Linked DNA regions of Homo sapiens: region 2 is linked to region 1. The links come from fine-mapping of genetic effects on gene expression. A gene starts in region 1. The other region holds a variant in brackets. All regions are shown on one strand. Distances are between the middles of the regions. Region 1 holds the start of PLA2G4B (phospholipase A2 group IVB). Region 2 overlaps EHD4 (EH domain containing 4).

The links.
Region 2: its variant is fine-mapped to the expression of PLA2G4B in whole blood (TOPMed, PIP 0.90).

The regions. Positions count from the first base shown.
Region 1 is chr15:41,834,490-41,842,808 of GRCh38, forward strand. PLA2G4B (phospholipase A2 group IVB) reads left to right here and starts at 4,358. Exons shown (of 20, transcript NM_001114633.2): 1 at 4,358-4,433; 2 at 5,669-5,741; 3 at 6,035-6,171; 4 at 6,285-6,416; 5 at 6,566-6,606; 6 at 6,742-6,784; 7 at 7,028-7,082; 8 at 7,330-7,460; 9 at 7,704-7,787; 10 at 8,065-8,102. The coding sequence starts at 4,425. It overlaps JMJD7-PLA2G4B (JMJD7-PLA2G4B readthrough), which reads left to right. Exons shown (of 25, transcript NM_005090.4): 2 at 251-404; 3 at 481-734; 4 at 1,099-1,155; 5 at 1,659-1,754; 6 at 1,986-2,062; 7 at 5,669-5,741; 8 at 6,035-6,171; 9 at 6,285-6,416; 10 at 6,566-6,606; 11 at 6,742-6,784; 12 at 7,028-7,082; 13 at 7,330-7,460; 14 at 7,704-7,787; 15 at 8,065-8,102. It overlaps JMJD7 (jumonji domain containing 7), which reads left to right. Exons shown (of 8, transcript NM_001114632.2): 2 at 251-404; 3 at 481-734; 4 at 1,099-1,155; 5 at 1,659-1,754; 6 at 1,986-2,062; 7 at 2,292-2,451; 8 at 2,579-3,092. The coding sequence ends at 2,667.
Region 2 is chr15:41,922,056-41,930,374 of GRCh38, forward strand. All of the region lies in intron 3 of EHD4 (EH domain containing 4), which reads right to left. EHD4-AS1 (EHD4 antisense RNA 1) reads left to right here. Exons shown (of 4, transcript NR_120332.1): 2 at 4,026-4,112; 3 at 6,295-6,451; 4 at 6,627-7,231. Among named protein-coding and RNA genes, the nearest start is that of EHD4-AS1, 4.8 kb to the left of the region's middle. RefSeq lists enhancers at 3,836-4,353, 5,754-5,963, 6,859-7,362, 7,325-7,404, 7,425-7,554. The variant G/A (reference allele first, on the strand shown) is at 4,117.

The DNA.
Region 1 (8,319 bases):
GGCTTATGGGCTGGGTAGCAGCCTCTGGCCCTGTGGACGGTCAGGGCCCATGCTGGTGTGTGTGCGTGATGCTTTCTGCTTTCATTTTTCCGTCCTCATCTTTCTATTACTGGTTGTCCAGGGTCCTTTGGTCACCAACGAGCATTTCCCAGTGACACAGCGCGGCCTTTCCAGGGAGGGCATCTCTTGGGCAGGGACTGGGTGCTGCAGACATCAGCCCTTCCATCCCCTGTCTTCTTCTTTCTCTCAGAGCTCTGCGTGCCTCTTGCTGTGCCCTACCTGGACAAACCCCCAACTCCGCTCCACTTCTACCGGGACTGGGTCTGCCCCAACAGGCCGTGCATTATCCGCAACGCTCTGCAGCACTGGCCGGCCCTCCAGAAGTGGTCCCTCCCCTATTTCAGGTGGGAGCTGCCCTGGGGTCAGGTGTGAGCAGTGATTACTGGCATCTGGGCATGGGCTGAGTGTCCATTCCTCTAGAGCCACAGTGGGCTCCACAGAGGTGAGTGTGGCCGTGACCCCAGATGGTTACGCGGATGCCGTGAGAGGGGATCGCTTCATGATGCCAGCTGAGCGCCGCCTGCCCCTGAGCTTCGTGCTGGATGTGCTGGAGGGCCGGGCCCAGCACCCTGGAGTCCTCTATGTGCAGAAGCAGTGCTCCAACCTGCCCAGCGAGCTGCCCCAGCTGCTGCCTGATCTGGAATCCCATGTGCCCTGGGCCTCCGAAGCCCTGGGTGAGTGGAGGTGGGGTGGTCGTGGCCCTGGACAGGGAAGATATGGGAAGGAGGGGGGTCAGCCTGTTTGCCCTTAGGTGATGACCTGGCCTATGGGCTTGGTCCTGTCAGCATCTGGTGCAGCTCACTAAATACATTCCCAGGCCTTGACTTAATCATAGATGAATTGCCAAAGATTGTTGTCCTTCCTTCTGCCCCAGGGAGGGAGGACCCCTTCCCCAAGATTTCCCAACCTCTGCCTCTTCTCCCTGACCCCTTTCTTGGGATTCTTCTGTGCTCACCCAGGTTTTGGCTCTGGCATCACTGGATGGCAGCTTTCCCCAGCCTGGCCTTCCTAACTTGCTCTCTGCCTTCTGCCCTGCAGGAAAGATGCCCGATGCTGTGAACTTCTGGCTGGGGGAGGCGGCTGCAGTGACTTCTTGTAGGTGTAAGGGGAATACAAAGGTGGGGAAGGAGCAGGTTGGGGCAGAGGGAGGGAAGACGAGGCCAGGAGTGGAGGGATGGCCCTGGGTGGAGGTTGGGCTGTTCTCTAAGATTTCTTTTGGCTTCTAGGACTCGGGCACCACAGAGGGTTTCCCCTGACAGCTGAGGTCGGGGAATGGACCCATGGCATTGGGGGCGGGTGCATTGTTTCTTCTAGACCCAAAGAAACCTCCCTGAAGGCCCGCTGGGCCAGGGGGTAAGTGTAGGAGAACTTCCCCTCTTGTTGAAGAGGAGTCCAGGGCCTGGTGAGCATCAGGTCCCTGGTAGGCAGAGTTCCAGAATGCCCATCAGAGCCCCTGGCATCTCCAGCCCACTGGCTCTGTGCGTGCTTCTCTTTTGTCATAGGACGTCTTGGGGTGCAGGGCTCTCAGCATGATGGTTTGCCTCCTCCCGTGCCCCTGCCCTCCATACCCTGCCCCCGGGCCTTCTTTCTGTTGGCAGTGCACAAGGACCACTATGAGAACCTCTACTGCGTGGTCTCAGGAGAGAAGCATTTCCTGTTCCATCCGCCCAGCGACCGGCCCTTCATCCCCTATGGTAGGGGATGTGGCCTGCAGGGAGGGGCTGGGGAACAGCTGGCCCAAGGGGGAGGGAGGCAGCAAGAGCCTGGGAGGCCAGTTCCCAGGCCTGAGGTGTGGCTGTGGCATCCCCAGTGCACCAGGGCCCCTGATCCCCTTGCCCCTGCCCAGGGCTGGCTGGGGTGGAGGAGGGTCTGGCAAGTTCCAGGCTGTTTGCAATTCCCCCACACCCTTCTCCCTTGGGCTCCAGAGCTGTACACGCCGGCAACCTACCAGCTAACTGAAGAGGGCACCTTTAAGGTGGTGGATGAAGAGGCCATGGAGAAGGTGTCTGTCCTGTTCTTGGGCTCTAGGGAGGGAGAAGGGCAGAAGCCTGGCTCTGAAGAACAGGCACAAAAGATCTGGGGAGGTGGCACCTTGCTCTGAAAAGTCTCTAAGTCTGAGGCCTTTCACTGCTGAGCCAAGCAGGGCCTGTGGTGTTGACCTTTGGAAGGGACAGAGCCTGAAGTCCTGGGGGGTCTGGGGGGCTGCTCCCTGGCATCTGATGTGTTCCCAGGTGCCCTGGATCCCACTGGACCCCTTGGCGCCAGACCTAGCACGGTACCCTAGTTACAGTCAGGCCCAGGCCCTTCGCTGCACGGTGCGGGCCGGTGAGATGCTCTATCTGCCGGCTCTGTGGTTCCACCACGTCCAGCAGTCCCAGGGCTGCATCGCAGGTGAAGAGTTGCCCAGGCCGCCTGGGGAGAGGCCCTGTCAAGGTCCAGCAGGGCCTCTGGGGGGAGGCTTGGGAGGCTCTAGGTCAGAAGAGGGATCTTCATGCTCAGATCCCCGTTCTTCCCACAGTGAATTTCTGGTATGACATGGAATACGACCTCAAGTATAGTTACTTCCAGCTGCTCGACTCCCTCACCAAGGCTTCAGGCCTTGACTGATGGAGCACTGGTGAACACCACCAAGCACGCCTCGGGGGACGGAGCCAGCCCCTCCCTGGCCAGGTCAATTCTCGAGAGAGCCTGGAGTGTGCATGCTGGCTGCTGGCCCCGGGTCCAGCATGGCTTGAGATCAGCTTTGGAGGATCTTGGAATGTGGTCATAAGGACTCAAGGTGCCAGGCAGGTCTGGGTGAGGGTTCTCAGGAAGTTGCCACACAGGTGAGCAGAGTGGGGATCAGGTGCAGCGGCACCTCTCCCCAGCGCTGTGATGTTGGGCGAGTCACTGCGTCTCGGGCATTGGTGTCCTGTCAGTAAAGAGATAATAATGGCTGTACCTCGCGGGGCTGTTGTGGGCTTGGAGATGATGTCTATGAGGACCAGCATGGAGCTGGCACACAGGACATGTTGAATAAAAGGTAGCTGTGAGTCGTATGTCCTTTTTTTTTTTTTTTTAAGATGGGGTCTCGCTCTGTCACCCAGGCTGGAGTGCAGTGGTGTGATGTCAGCTCACTGCAAGCTCCGCCTCCCAGGTTCACACTATTCTGCCTCAGCCTCCCAAGTAGCTGGGACTACAGGTGCGTGCCACCATGCCCGGCTAATTTTTTTGTATTTTTAGTAGAGACGGGGTTTCACCGTGTTAGCCAGTATGGTCTTGATCTCCTGACCTCGTGATCCACCTGCCTCGGCCTCCCAAAAGTGCTGGGATTACAGGTGTGAGCTGCTGCGCCTGGCTTATGAGTCGTATGTTCTGATCCTCCCTCTTGAAGTTGCCTTCTGTGGTCTAAGGAGGGCCTGAAGGTTCAGGTAAAAACTTCAGGGTGACCTTCACTGGGGGTGAGGGCTGGATCCCAGCCTGGGCCCAAAGAGCCGTCAGCTGCCCAAGTCCCGCTGTCCATGAGAGTCACCGCAGCCCCTCCCTGGGACAAGCAAGCAGACCTGAGTCTTGTAGCTCTCTGGTCCGGACCTCTTTGCCCAGGACCTTGAGAGCTATTCCTAGCTCTCCTATGGTTACTGTCCTCCCCCAGTTCAGGGGCAGCAGGTGGGACCTGGTGCCCTGGGGATAACCCCTGTTTCTCCCATAACAGGCACAGGCAGGAAGGGACGGAAGCCCCCGCCTCTCCTGGGGCTGTCCCTCTGAGGAAAGAGTTGGTCTCCACACGCTGACCCCCCCACAAACCATGCCCTGGAGGCAGAAGAACCCCCTGCCCCTGAGTGCCAACCCACAGGCCTCATCCCTGGCCACTCAGCACCTAGCTTTGAAGGGCTGTTTTATGTGACAGCCACTCCCCTGCCTGTCGTGAGGGGGCCCGGGTGTTCATCTCAGATTGATGGATCCCTGCCATCAAGACTGGGCATTCCTGTCCAACAGGTGCCAGAGTTGCGAAAGGCCTGTGACAGGGAACTCCACTCTTCCCTTGGCTGCTGTTCTGGGACTCACCCCTGCTTTCCTTCTGCTCAGCCCCTGGCAGCAAGCTCTCCAGGCTGGGATTGCAGGGCTGGGTGGGGCAGGCCCAGCTGGTAAAGGCTGGCGAGTGCCACAGAGGTATCAGGAGCTCTAGTATAGGCTTAGGGTGCCTCATTTCCTGGACAGGTGGCTGGTTCAGGAGTGGGTGTGGAGCTTAGGTGGAGCAGAGGCGGCGGGTAGGAGGGACTTGGGACCAATTGGGACATCACATCCCTGGCTCTGGGTTAGAAAGCTGACAGTCCTTGATCCTGTGGCCACTGCCCCATCATTCCTGCTCCTGAGGACTCAGTCTCATGGCTGTGGTAAGGCCTGGCAGGGCCCTGGGTCCCTACTGGGACCCCTGGTCTCTACCTGGGGCCTAGTTAATATGTTTCTTATGGGAGCTGTGGTCTTCTCCAGGGGTAGGGAGGGGAGTTTATTGACCACAAGACCAGGGTAGCGGGCAGAAGCCAGGGGAGGAGGAGGCTTGGGGATGAGGGATCCGTCCTGAGTGTTTTCTGTCCTGGGAACGGGCTCCTGGCAGAGCTCCCTGGCACCACAGATTTGGGCCCTGGAGACTCAGAGGCTCCCAGCTGCCGCCCTGAGGCCCTGGAAGCAAGTGGCTCCTCCATGCTCCTCTGACTCAGTTGCCTGGAGTGTGAGGGCCCTGGGCTGACCCTGGTGGATGAGGCCCTCCAGCACTGCCCTGGACCTGGTTGCTCCCTGGACTTGACCTGTTAGGGTCCTTGTGGAGGCAGGTGGAAGGCCGAAAGGAAGCAGTTGGCACAGGCTTCCCTGGTCCCGGTGCGCCTGCCAGGCTGCATTCCCAGAACCAGGGGCATGGGTTTGGAGGGAGCTACCGGGGGACCATCTTCAGCCTGACCTGGCAGGACCTGGAGGACATGACAGCCTGTGAGGGGTCTGAGCTAGGAGCCGCCTCCCCTGCCCAGGAGAGAGCCCATTTCCAGGATGCTCTTCTGACCAGGGTGGAGGGAGGGTACGAGAGCAGCTCAGCCTGGGGCCCAAGGCCCTGATGTGCTACTTCCCCTCCCTCGATAGCTTATGTCCCCTGCCACCCAAGACCAGCCGGAAAGCTGCTTAGCTGGGGTGTGGGCTGGGGATGTGGGGTGGAGAGCCTAAAGGATACTAGCCCGAGAAGGTGGAAGCAGGTCTGTGTGAGGCATAAATCTGGAGCCAGCCTGCCCGGGCTCCAACCCCAATTGTGGACCTCAGGCAAGTGACTGCTTCTCTGTGCCTCAGTTTCCTTGTGGAGTGGGCCATCGTAAATAGTATCTGTGCATAAGGTGGTTGTGCGATAAATGAGTTAATGTATGCAAAGCCCTTGGCCCAGAGCCGGCGCAGAGCATTGTGTAAGTGCTGGCAGGCGTCATGATGGAGATATCATGTCTCCTCTTGTTGATTCAGGATTCTGATGAGATGGAGGATGGGCCTGGGGTTCAGGATTAGGCCTTGAGGCACTGCTCCAGCCTCCTTTGTGGCCCCTGTCACCCTTGGCTTCATCGGCCCGTAGCAGGTCTCCCCTCTCCCACCTCTGCAGGCAGAGGTGTCCAGGACCTGCCTGCTCACGGTTCGTGTCCTGCAGGCCCATCGCCTACCCTCTAAGGACCTAGGTGAGTGCGCACCGCCCTGGCCCCTGTGCTGGGCTGAGGGAGGAGGAGGGTGCTGAGGAGGAGGGTGCTGTGGCTGGATTTGGTGGAGGCGGGTGGGCCGGTGGGCAGGGCCTAGAGGAGGGAGCTGAGAGGAGCTTCTGGGTGGAAGGTGGCAGCTGGGGCTCTGCCTCTGGCCCCCACTTCCCCTCCCCCTCAGTCTTAACCCACATGGGGCTCTAGGTGATGGAAGGAAGTGGGTCTGGGCGGCTGGGAAGGGCTCTTGTCCACCGCTGGGCACTTGTTCCTTCCCGCAGTGACCCCCTCTGACTGCTACGTGACTCTCTGGCTGCCCACGGCCTGCAGCCACAGGCTCCAGACACGCACGGTCAAGAACAGCAGTAGCCCTGTCTGGAACCAGAGCTTTCACTTCAGGATCCACAGGCAGCTCAAGGTGGGCCAGGCATCAGCGCTGACTCTACCCACATCCTCGCCAGCCACTGCCGCTGCCCTGCTCACCTTTCTGTCCCCTCCCTCCTGCAGCCCTGTCACTCTTTTCCCCTCCAGAATGTCATGGAACTGAAAGTCTTTGACCAGGACCTGGTGACCGGAGATGACCCTGTGTTGTCAGTACTGTTTGATGCGGGGACTCTGCGGGCTGGGGAGTTCCGGCGCGAGAGCTTCTCACTGAGCCCTCAGGCAAGGCGGTGTTTCCACGGCAGCCCTAGCTGGTGTCTGGGTTGAAATCTCCACGCGCACACATGCACACACACGCATGTCTCTCATACTCACTGACATATGTGCACTCCTTCTGACCCTTTCTAACTTACTTCTGGCTCTCTTCCCAGGGTGAGGGGCGCCTGGAAGTTGAATTTCGCCTGCAGAGTCTGTGAGTCAGGGGCCTGGGGCAGTTTGGGTGGGAGTGCCTTGTGGGAAGGACAGCACTAGTGCCTGGGGGATGCCCAGGTCTCTGTGGGGTGGGAACCTGGACTCCTGCTAAGGGGGCTCTGGGGGCTCTTTCCAGGGCTGACCGTGGCGAGTGGCTCGTCAGCAATGGCGTTCTGGTGGTGAGTGTGCCAGTGCTCTGGGAGGCGGTCTGGGGTCCCCGGGACTCCCTCATGCCAGCGACTTGAGGTACAGGCCCACCGCTGCCTCAGCCTGGGGACCCTGGGATTTCAGTTTGTTAAGGGAATACAATCTCAAGGGCCCAGGTAATGAAGTGCAGACCAGCAGCAGCCAGGGTGCTGCGAGGGTGGGGTCCCTGAATGGGGGGTGGGGTTAGTGTCTGAGGGGCTGTCTTCATGACTCAGGCCCGGGAGCTCTCCTGCTTGCACGTTCAACTGGAGGAGACAGGAGACCAGAAGTGTGAGTCCCCAACCCACTGGGACAGCCCCTGGCTCTCAGCTCTTGTCTTCCCCCTTTAAGCATTGGACAATTCTCCTTGGGGCCTGAGCTTTCCCCTTAGGCCTTCTCGGGGGACTGTGGTGGGGGATCCATCTCCACCAGACCATTTCAGCGGGGAGAGGGAGGTGCCCTCCAGGCCACGCAGCAAGATGGGTTCTGTGGGCAGAGATACCGTCCCCAGCCTCTCTGCTCTGGTTCCTGTTTCCAGCCTCAGAGCACAGAGTTCAGCTTGTGGTTCCTGGGTCCTGTGAGGGTCCGCAGGAGGCCTCTGTGGGCACTGGCACCTTCCGCTTCCACTGCCCAGCCTGCTGGGAGCAGGAGCTGAGTATTCGCCTGCAGGTAGTGTGCCTCGCTCCCTCGAGGTGGGGCCCCCAGAACTTCCTCCCTCCCTCTGCACCTCCTCCCAGTCTGACCTCTGCTCCACCTGGCAGAGTGGGCACCCTGGCAGCATGTGTGGGCCCATGCTGGCCTCCCCTTCCCGTCCCTCCCATAACTCTATGGCTGCCGGCGGGAGTTTGGTGAGGTCTTTGCTAGGAGTGGAAGCGTAAAGATTCTTAGGTCTGCATTCTTTGTCCCCTGCAGGATGCCCCCGAGGAGCAACTAAAGGCGCCACTGAGTGCCCTGCCCTCTGGTCAAGTGGTGAGGCTTGTCTTCCCCACGTCCCAGGTACTGGCCTCCCAGGGAAGGAAGCAAGGCGCCTGGATGGGGCTGGGACCCAGGCCACAAAGGGAGGGGCCTGCTTCCCGCTTCTCCGTGGGTCACACCCTGAGCAGGTGCTGGGGCCAGGCTCTTTGGGGAGTGTCCTCTGAGCATCCCTGCTTCAGGCCTGGCGCCTGTGGAGACGGTGGCGGGGCGGGGGTGGTGCGCCGGGGATCAGGGTAAGAGGACCAGAGCTGGGTGGAGGTGGCCGACCTTTTGTGACTGGGGCCTTCACGGTTTTCAGGAGCCCCTGATGAGAGTGGAGCTGAAAAAAGAAGCAGGGTGAGAGGCCTGGCTGGGGACTGGGCAAGGCCCTGGAAAACAACCAGGGTGCGGGGCTGGAGGAGGCCTGGAGGAGTGAGGGGGAGAAACAGCCGCCCCTCATCCTCATGCTCTCTGAAGGGGCTCAGGCTTGCGCTCGAGGGGGCACGAAGTACTGGGAGGAGTACTGGGAGGAGTCTTAGCACCTATGGTCAGAGGGGCGAGTGACCGGCCCAGT
Region 2 (8,319 bases), 88 kb after region 1:
TTAAATTAGTTAGAATCAGCTTCTTTGGTTTGCTATTGAAAGTGATGATAAGGCTGGGCACGGTGGCTAATGCCTGTAATTCCAGCACTCTGGGAGGCAGAGGCGGGAGGATTGTTTGAGGCTAGGAGTTTGAAACCACCTGGCAATATGGTGAGACCCTGTCTCTACAAAAAATAAAAACAAATTAACTGGGTGTGGTGGCGTATGCATGTGGGCTCAGCTACTTGGGAGGCTGAGGCAGGAAGATCACTTGAGGCCAGGAGTTTGAGGCAGTGAGCCATGGACCCACCACTATACTCCAGCCTGGGTGAGAGAGTGAGACCCTGTCACAAAAACAAAACAAAACAAAACAAACAAAACCACAATTGGTAAACAATCCTCCCCTCACCCCCATTTAAGATTTCGGAATACCTCTTACTGTCGGTTCCGAAAGAAACCTGCCACCCAAACTGAAACACAGCTGCTGCTGCTAGCTGCGCTCGCGCCAACCCTGCCGTGCTTGTGCCAACCCAGCCGTGCAGATGCAGTCTCTCTTCCTCCCAGGGCCGCCTGGGTTGAATGGTTACCTTTGATTGCAACACTTGTGTTTAAACTTTAACTTAAATTTGAGTTCCTAACAGTTAATTTAAGCATCTTTAAAAAAGATGCCATTTCAATGCTATAGTGAAATCAAAAGTTATTAGGAACAGAGCTGCCAGATTTAAGTTTACTATAAGTGACGCCAATACTCATGTCTGGAGGAACAGGTACATATCCATATTTTCTTGTGTTAAAGCAACAATGAGAGCTTAATATAGTTCGAGAAGTACAGGTAGGCAGAGCTGTGTTTGTTCTGTCCCTGAGCAGGTGTAAGAGGACGGTCTGTCACACATCAGGCAACACAATCAAAGGAGTAGAAATCACCGTGTCCAAAAGAGAGCAAGGAATGATCAAAGCTGGGAGAGGTTGGTCTGCTTACCACCTCCCCCTACAAAGTTAGGATTATTTTGCTACTTTAAGCATTTTAAGTGTACTGCACAGTGGCATTAAATAAGTCACATTGTCGTACAACCACCACCACCATCCAACTGAAACTCTGAACCCATTAAGCACTAATTCTCCCCTCCTCTCTCTAGCCCCTGGCGACCACCATTCTACTTTTTGTCTCTATGAATTTGACTACTCTAGGTACTTCAGAGAAGTGTCCTTTTGTGCCCGGCTTCTTTCACTCAGCACAACGTCCTCAAGGTCCATCTGTGGTGTAGCATGTGTCAGAGTCTCTCCCTCCTCCTAAGGCTGAATAGGTCGGCTTGATTCTTGTGTCATGAAGGACTCAGGCGGCAAATACCTAGCTACCCAAAAATCCCAGCGGATCTAACTCCCAACATGTCATTTAGTCTGCCTGCTAAAGGAAAACGGTGATTCAGAAGGACCTAGAGACCACTGATCCTCAAAGCCTGTTCCTGTGTTGGAATGAAATAAGGGGCTTGCTAAAGTTTAGACTCCTAGGCCCCTCCCCAGAGCCACTGAATCAGAATCCCTGGGGCTGAGCCTGGGGATCTGCACTTGGAAGCTTCCCAGGTGATTGCAATGCATGGTGCAGTTTGAGGATCACTGTCTAGACTGAATACCAGGGTGGGGAAATTGTACAGATAGGTTTATGTTCCTGTTGGTTAGCAAGCAACAAAGCAAATCAAACACATTTAAAGTAGTATTAGTTCCTTTTATTCCAAAAAGTTACCAATAGATGTTTAGGTGGTGCATCACAGGTCGAGGAAACAGAACTGAAACATGCTTATCTGAAGACAGATTTTAAAACTCACCCAAGCTCCCTGCTTTTGCCCATGCTGGGCTATGGCCCTGGTGAACCCTTCCTCTATGGTCTAGACTGAGCCTAGAAAGCCAGCCCAAACCCTAGTCATTCTTCAAAATATCTGGGCCAACTTTGATTAAGTTAGACATTACTTAACGTTAAGCTCCAGTTTTTTTCACCTGTAAGATCGGGTTGTTGAGTGATTACCTGAGAAAATGCTTTTATCCATAAGGCATTGAGACTTTGTTAACTTTCAGCAAATTTGAGCTGTGGTTACTCTGGTTTCCTCAACTGCTCCCCATCCTGAGTTCCCTTGCCTGTGCTGCCTATGGCACCACTTCACACAGGGTATTAAAATCAGAGGGATGGGCTGGTCTCTTTCATTAGATTATATATTCTCTAACCACAGGAACTGTGTCTTCATCATGGTCACACAAGATAGTGGCGGACAATGTGGGCCTTGGACCCAGACTGCCTGGGACCTTCCTGGCTCCATCACTTACTAATTCTGCGACCTTGGGCAAATTACTTCACCTCTCTGTGCCTCGTTTCCTCATCTGTAATAACAGTGTCTTGGGGCTACCCTAGGGCTGATAATAGTATCCACAGGCCTCAGGAGCTGCAGAGTTAATATACGTGAAGCATTTAGAATCACCTTGGCACCTAGAAAGCTGTCCAAAATGCTATCTACTGGTTATTTAAAAAATCTTTGTATCCAGTGCCTGGCATACAGGGGGGATGCAAGAAATATTTGTGGGAGAAGTGACAGAAAGCAGGCAGTGGCTGCCTATGACGGGAGCCCGGCTGGTGAGTGGAACAGACAAACAGGGAGCGTCTCAGGGTGATGGAAAGTTTCTATATCTTGATGATGGCCATAGTCACACGAGTATGCAAATATGTCAAATTCACCAAACTGTACAATTAGATAGAATAGATGCATTTTTCACGCCTGTAATCCCAGCATTTTGGGAGGTCAAGGCAGGTGGATCGCCTGAGGTCAGGAGTTCGAGACCAGCCTGGCCAACTTCGCGAAACCCTGTCTCTACTAAAAATACAAAAATTAGCCAGGCTAATTTTTGGCAGATACCTGTAATCCCAGCTACTTGGGAGGCTGAGGCAGGAGAATCGCTTCAACCCAAGAGGCGGAGGCTGCAGTGAGCCGAGACTGTGCCGCTGTACTCCAGCCTGGGTGACAGCGAGGGACTGTATCTCAAAAAAAAAAAAAAAGGTGCATTTAATCATATGTTATACTTCAACAAAATTGACTTAAAAAGCAAAAGTAAATAGGAAGAAAAGAAAGAAAAATCCCAAGGCTGCTAAACTTGTTTAAAGATACACATCTCCACAAACTGCTGAATGGACCAGGAAGTTGAAATCTGTTCATCAAGGGGCTACATACCTAAGCTGGCTGTATATGGAGGTGAACGAAGCTATAGTAGAAGCCTTAAGCTTTAGAAGAAATCGGCCTTAAGAACCACTCGAAGCGGCTAACCTGCATCCTGCTTTCTGGCCAAGGTGATGAAAACCTCTCATGGTGACAGAACAGGAGTGAGAATGCTCCAAGTTTGTGAGAACTGGTTTCAGCTAGGCACAATGCAACGTGGCCTGGGGCATGGAACGATCTGGACCTATGTGTGTTTGCATGTACTAGTGTGTGTTGTGGGTGCAGGACTCAACATAATCATAGAATCATCCCACGGTGCTCAGTATATTTTCAACACTTATTCATGCAATTAATAGAAATTTCAATCCTTTAAGACCTTCCAGTGAAACTTGTATTAGTCTGGAACAAAAAAGAGATGTAATCAGTCCAGTTGTTTCAAAATATAGTTTCTTTCTTTGCCAAAGGACCCAAAAGCTACACAGCTTGGGGAACTAGGAGAAAGAATTTGTCCTGCGGAAGATCCCAGATTGGCATTCCTGGCTCCATGTTCTGGGAACAAAAGGAGGGGGCAGGAAGGAAGGAGCCCCTTCTACCCAATCAAGGGCTTCCCGTCACAGCCCCTGTGGAAACTGTGGTCCTCCATCCTGGCCAGAGAAAGAGCCACCAGGGAATGGCATAAGGGGTTAGAACAGTTGCTCCCTGGCTCAGGTAAATATAGCACGGGGGTCCCTGAGGAAGCAAATTTGGCAGTCTATTTTTAATAGAACAAGAGAAAAATAATGCTTACATTTCTTTTCAGAGCCAAGTTTCTAATTATGAGTTTTAAACAAGATGTGTGTCTATGGCCAGGTGCGGTGGCTCAGACCTGTAATCCCAGCACTTTGGGAGGCCAAGGCAAGAGGATTACTTGAGCTCAGGAGTTTGAGACCAGCCTGGGTGA[G/A]TGAGGCCCTGTCTCTACTTAAATAAAAAAAACAAAGAAAGATGTGTGTTAATGAAAGGATGCAAGGCAATGGAAGGCAGGCAGAAATGCAGCCGAGCTCCCCCTGCCATGTCCCTCCTCCCACTCCTGGGGTGGGCAGGGCCACTTGCCCGTGGTGGTGACGGAACACTGCCTAAAACTGCTCAAACCTCTCCTCTTTTCGAGGCCCTGCCCGCCCCTCCCATAGTTAGTAGCTCCAGTTCCATGTGGGCATTCCTACCACTGCCCCCAGCACTTTCTGTGTGGCTCTGTCTGTGCAACCCCAGGCTCTCCTGGCTGCATGTTCACCTTTGTGTCCCTCCAGCACCCGTGCAGTGAGCATCCAGCACGAGGCAGGCACCAAGAGTTCCTTCTTGTCCCCAGGTTCCAACCTCACTAATCTAGCCCTCAGACGATCCCCATCCCTTCTTAGAACTCAAAGATTATCTCCAAAACTGTGAGTGTCCCTGATTATGTCTAGAATAAATGTTTCCAGAACAAATTCTCCATGACTAGCCTCTGCTGCAATTCTCAACCTTTGCTCAGTCTCTTACTAAGCCCCACCCTCTCCACTGCACAAACCACACTGGGCTCTGCTGTTCCGCAGCAGCATCCTGTACTTCCCTGTCTCCACACCCTTGCTCAGGCTTTTCTTTCTGTCTGGAATGCCCTTTCCTCTTCTCCAACTACAGCCACTCATCCCTCTGGGGAACTTTCCTCCAGGTGGCCTTCCCCCACCCAGTGGAACAGAACCGCCTTTCCTGTTTCCTCCTGATGGGGTCTGTAGCAGCCTGAGAGCAGGGCCAAGTCTTCACTGTGTCTGTAACCCAAAGGCCCACTGCAGATGCCTTACACTATCAAATCAGGTTCCCGGGGATAGAGTCTTATAGCTTTAATGAATTTCCTTCATAGCACTTATACTCTGAAATGGTATATACATTTGCTGACTATAAGACAGAAATTCTGAGGGCAGAGACTCCACTCCTTATTCTATTCACCACTATACACCCAGGAATTACTACTGAGCACAGTAGGTGTTCAATACATTTGGTTTATTCCTCCAAAAACTAAAAATGGAACTATCATATCATCCAGCAATCCCACTTTGGGTATTTGTCCAAAAGAACTGAAATCAGGACTTTGAAGAGATATCTGCACACCCATGTTCACTGCAGCATTATTGGCATCATTTCTTTATCCATTCATTCATTGATGGACGCTTTATGGCAACAGCCAAGATGTAGAAATAAGAAAAGCATCCATCAGTGAATGAACGGATAGAGAAAATGTGGTGTACACATCCAATGGAATACTATTCAGCCTTAAAAAAAATTCTGCAATATGCAACAACATGGATGGCCCTTGAGGAAAAAAACATGCTAAGTGAAATAAGCCCATCACAGAAGGACAAACATACATAATTCTACTTGTATAAGATATGTAAAATAGTCAAACACACAAAATCAGAGAGGGGAACCATGACTGCCAGAGGCTGTGGGGAGAAGGAAATGGGGCTTTGCTAATCAACCAGCATAAAATTTCAGTTAGGCAAGATGAATAAGTTCTAGAGATTTGCGGAACCACACTGTGCCTATAGCCACATTGTGCTTGTAATGGATACTTAAAAATGCGTAAAGAGGGTAGATTTCGTTAAGTGTTCTTATCACAGTAAAATACAGTAAAATTGGTTTAATCAAGTGAATTCACTTGAACAAGAAATGTAACTGATTTTTAGCAATCTGGCAAGTTTAGTTGCTTAAATAGTGGTATGCGTTTCTAAAAAAGGGTTGTTACTAACTAGGGGAAGTGTAAATCATCTCAAAGTAAACATCAACTATCTGGGATCGCTCAGGTATTATAAATACACTTCGAAAAGAGTCCCTTTAGTTAATAATAACAGCCACTTCAGGGCAAGGAGTCTCTGCATTGTTTCCTGGCTGAGTTTACTTCGCAACTAGAAAAGTCTGCTTCTGAAAATGTCTTCTGAAAATGTCATTGTGGCAGAGAGCAAAATGATAGCTATAAATCAACAACTGCAGCAAATATTTACTTAGCTCTTACTACATTCCTGCACTGCCCTGTGAGCTCCATATCACTACAATCTTGTAATCCTTGCAACAATCCCATGAAGTAGGTACTTTTATTACCCCCATTTTACAGGGGAGGAAAAAAGACTCAGAGAGGTTAAGTATCCGACCCAAGGCACACAGCTGTTTCTCAGGGGAGCCCGGATTCAAACCCAGGGACTCGGATCCTAGAGCCTGTGCTTTCACCCGCTGCGCTGCACCATATGTGTACCAGGATGGTAGAATCAGAGGTGAGTGTACTTTATTTTCTCCTTTTTGATTTGTGGTTTCCTAAGTGTTCTACAATGAATATATATTATTTTTATATCAAGAAAACAAATATGCATATTGTAAAAATTATTGGCCCACTTGCATTATTATTGAGGAGGTTGTTCTTTTTCTTCTACAATGGTGCTTCTGGTGAAGGTCTGGATTCCAGCATTTCCCTGCCAGAGGCTATGGTGGGTGTGCCGAGCACCACCCTGAGGGGGAAGCAGTATCTCAGCAACTACACCCCCGAGGAAGAGGCAGTCCCCAATCAGCGGGAGCAATGGGACCTGCTGATGACAAAATAAGCCACAGAATGAATGGCTCTGCTCCACTGGCCTTCTCTCCTCCCTGCCCCCTTTTCCCCAGCTGACCAGATGCAGGGCAGTGGCAGGGAGGGGCTGATACCAAACCCGGTCTGGGAGACTGCCCGGAGGGAACACAGGTTCCCAAGCTCCTTTTGGAGAGGCTGGATGTGAGTTCACCTCGAACCTTTCAGCTGGTAATGGCCACCTCTTGGAGAATGTAACTGGTTACCAGAAAACCCCAGAGGTTGTCTCCCAGTACCTAGCCTAAAGTGGGTGTGGCCACAGAACCTACCAAAATTTAAATAAAAGCAAGAACTAGGCGTGTCCAGGGATGGCGTTGTGCTGTTTATCCGCTCTCTGCTCTTCCCACTCCTCCTTCCTTTGGGATTTTGTCCAAGACTCTGTAAATTAATTTTTCTGTGCCTGTTTCCTCATAAAATAAACAAGCTAACCTCACAGCCTGTCCCTCCTTCCTCTGGGGGATATGTGACAATAACAGATGGGTGAGCCACATGTCCCTGAAGGCCCCTCCAGGGCAAGGGCGGGAGAGCCCCACATCACAGGTTCGTGCCACGCCACAGACATGGGAACAGAGGAAGGTTCCACGCCAGTACTCGGCCCACTGAACGCTGCTGCTTCTGGGCATGTGACCAAGTGAAAGGGAAAATTGGGTTTCGCATCTCACTTTCCATCTCAGATTAAATACCAGATGAAGAAGCAGGCCCATTTAAAGAAGGCTGAGCCCTGGAGAAAGACAGCAACATGGTATTATCAGTCATTTTAGGCTCTTTGCTGGAGAGGGAAGTTGGTAAAAAAACCTACCAAGAAAATCCTGTAAGTCCTGGAGCCTGGCTTAACAATTTCATTCTGCTGGGCCTCAGTTTCTATACCTGTGAGTCAGATGATCAAAAAGGATTCTTTCTAGATCTTAAATTTTAGCTATATAGGGTGGTTCCAAACAGTAAGCTTCTTTGAAATAAAAAGCCAGATTCCCAGGAAAATCGATTTAGCTCAGCGTCTGTATAGTACAGACACGAACTAGTTACAGTGCCAGCCTAAGATGACCCTTCAGATGGCTACAGTAGACCCTTCAGATGGCTACAGGAATACTGAATGAACAACTCTAAATGACACAATTATCAAACAGTAAGTTTCATTTTATTACATCCCTTCTACTGGATTCATGTGCTATATAGCATTTGGGCCAATTTGAAGGTCCTTGAATGTTTCTATAGGTGTAATTAGTTGCCCCAAAGTTTAACTTATTGTCATCCAATTCCAAACAACTCTATACTGAAAGAAACTATCTGAGGAAGGGTTGTGGAATGTATGACTTCCAAGGATGCTTAAGAAGTCACCCCATCTAACCTTCTGATATTATTATATATTAGGATGAACAGATCCAGGAATCCCGTGTCACGCACATGGAAATTGTCCATTCCTCATTTTTCAAGTGGGCTTTGTGTATAAGTCAGGCTAGAAAGTCTCATACAATATGTCTATAAATCAGACGGAGTTGGCGTGGCAAACATTACTTGCACTGA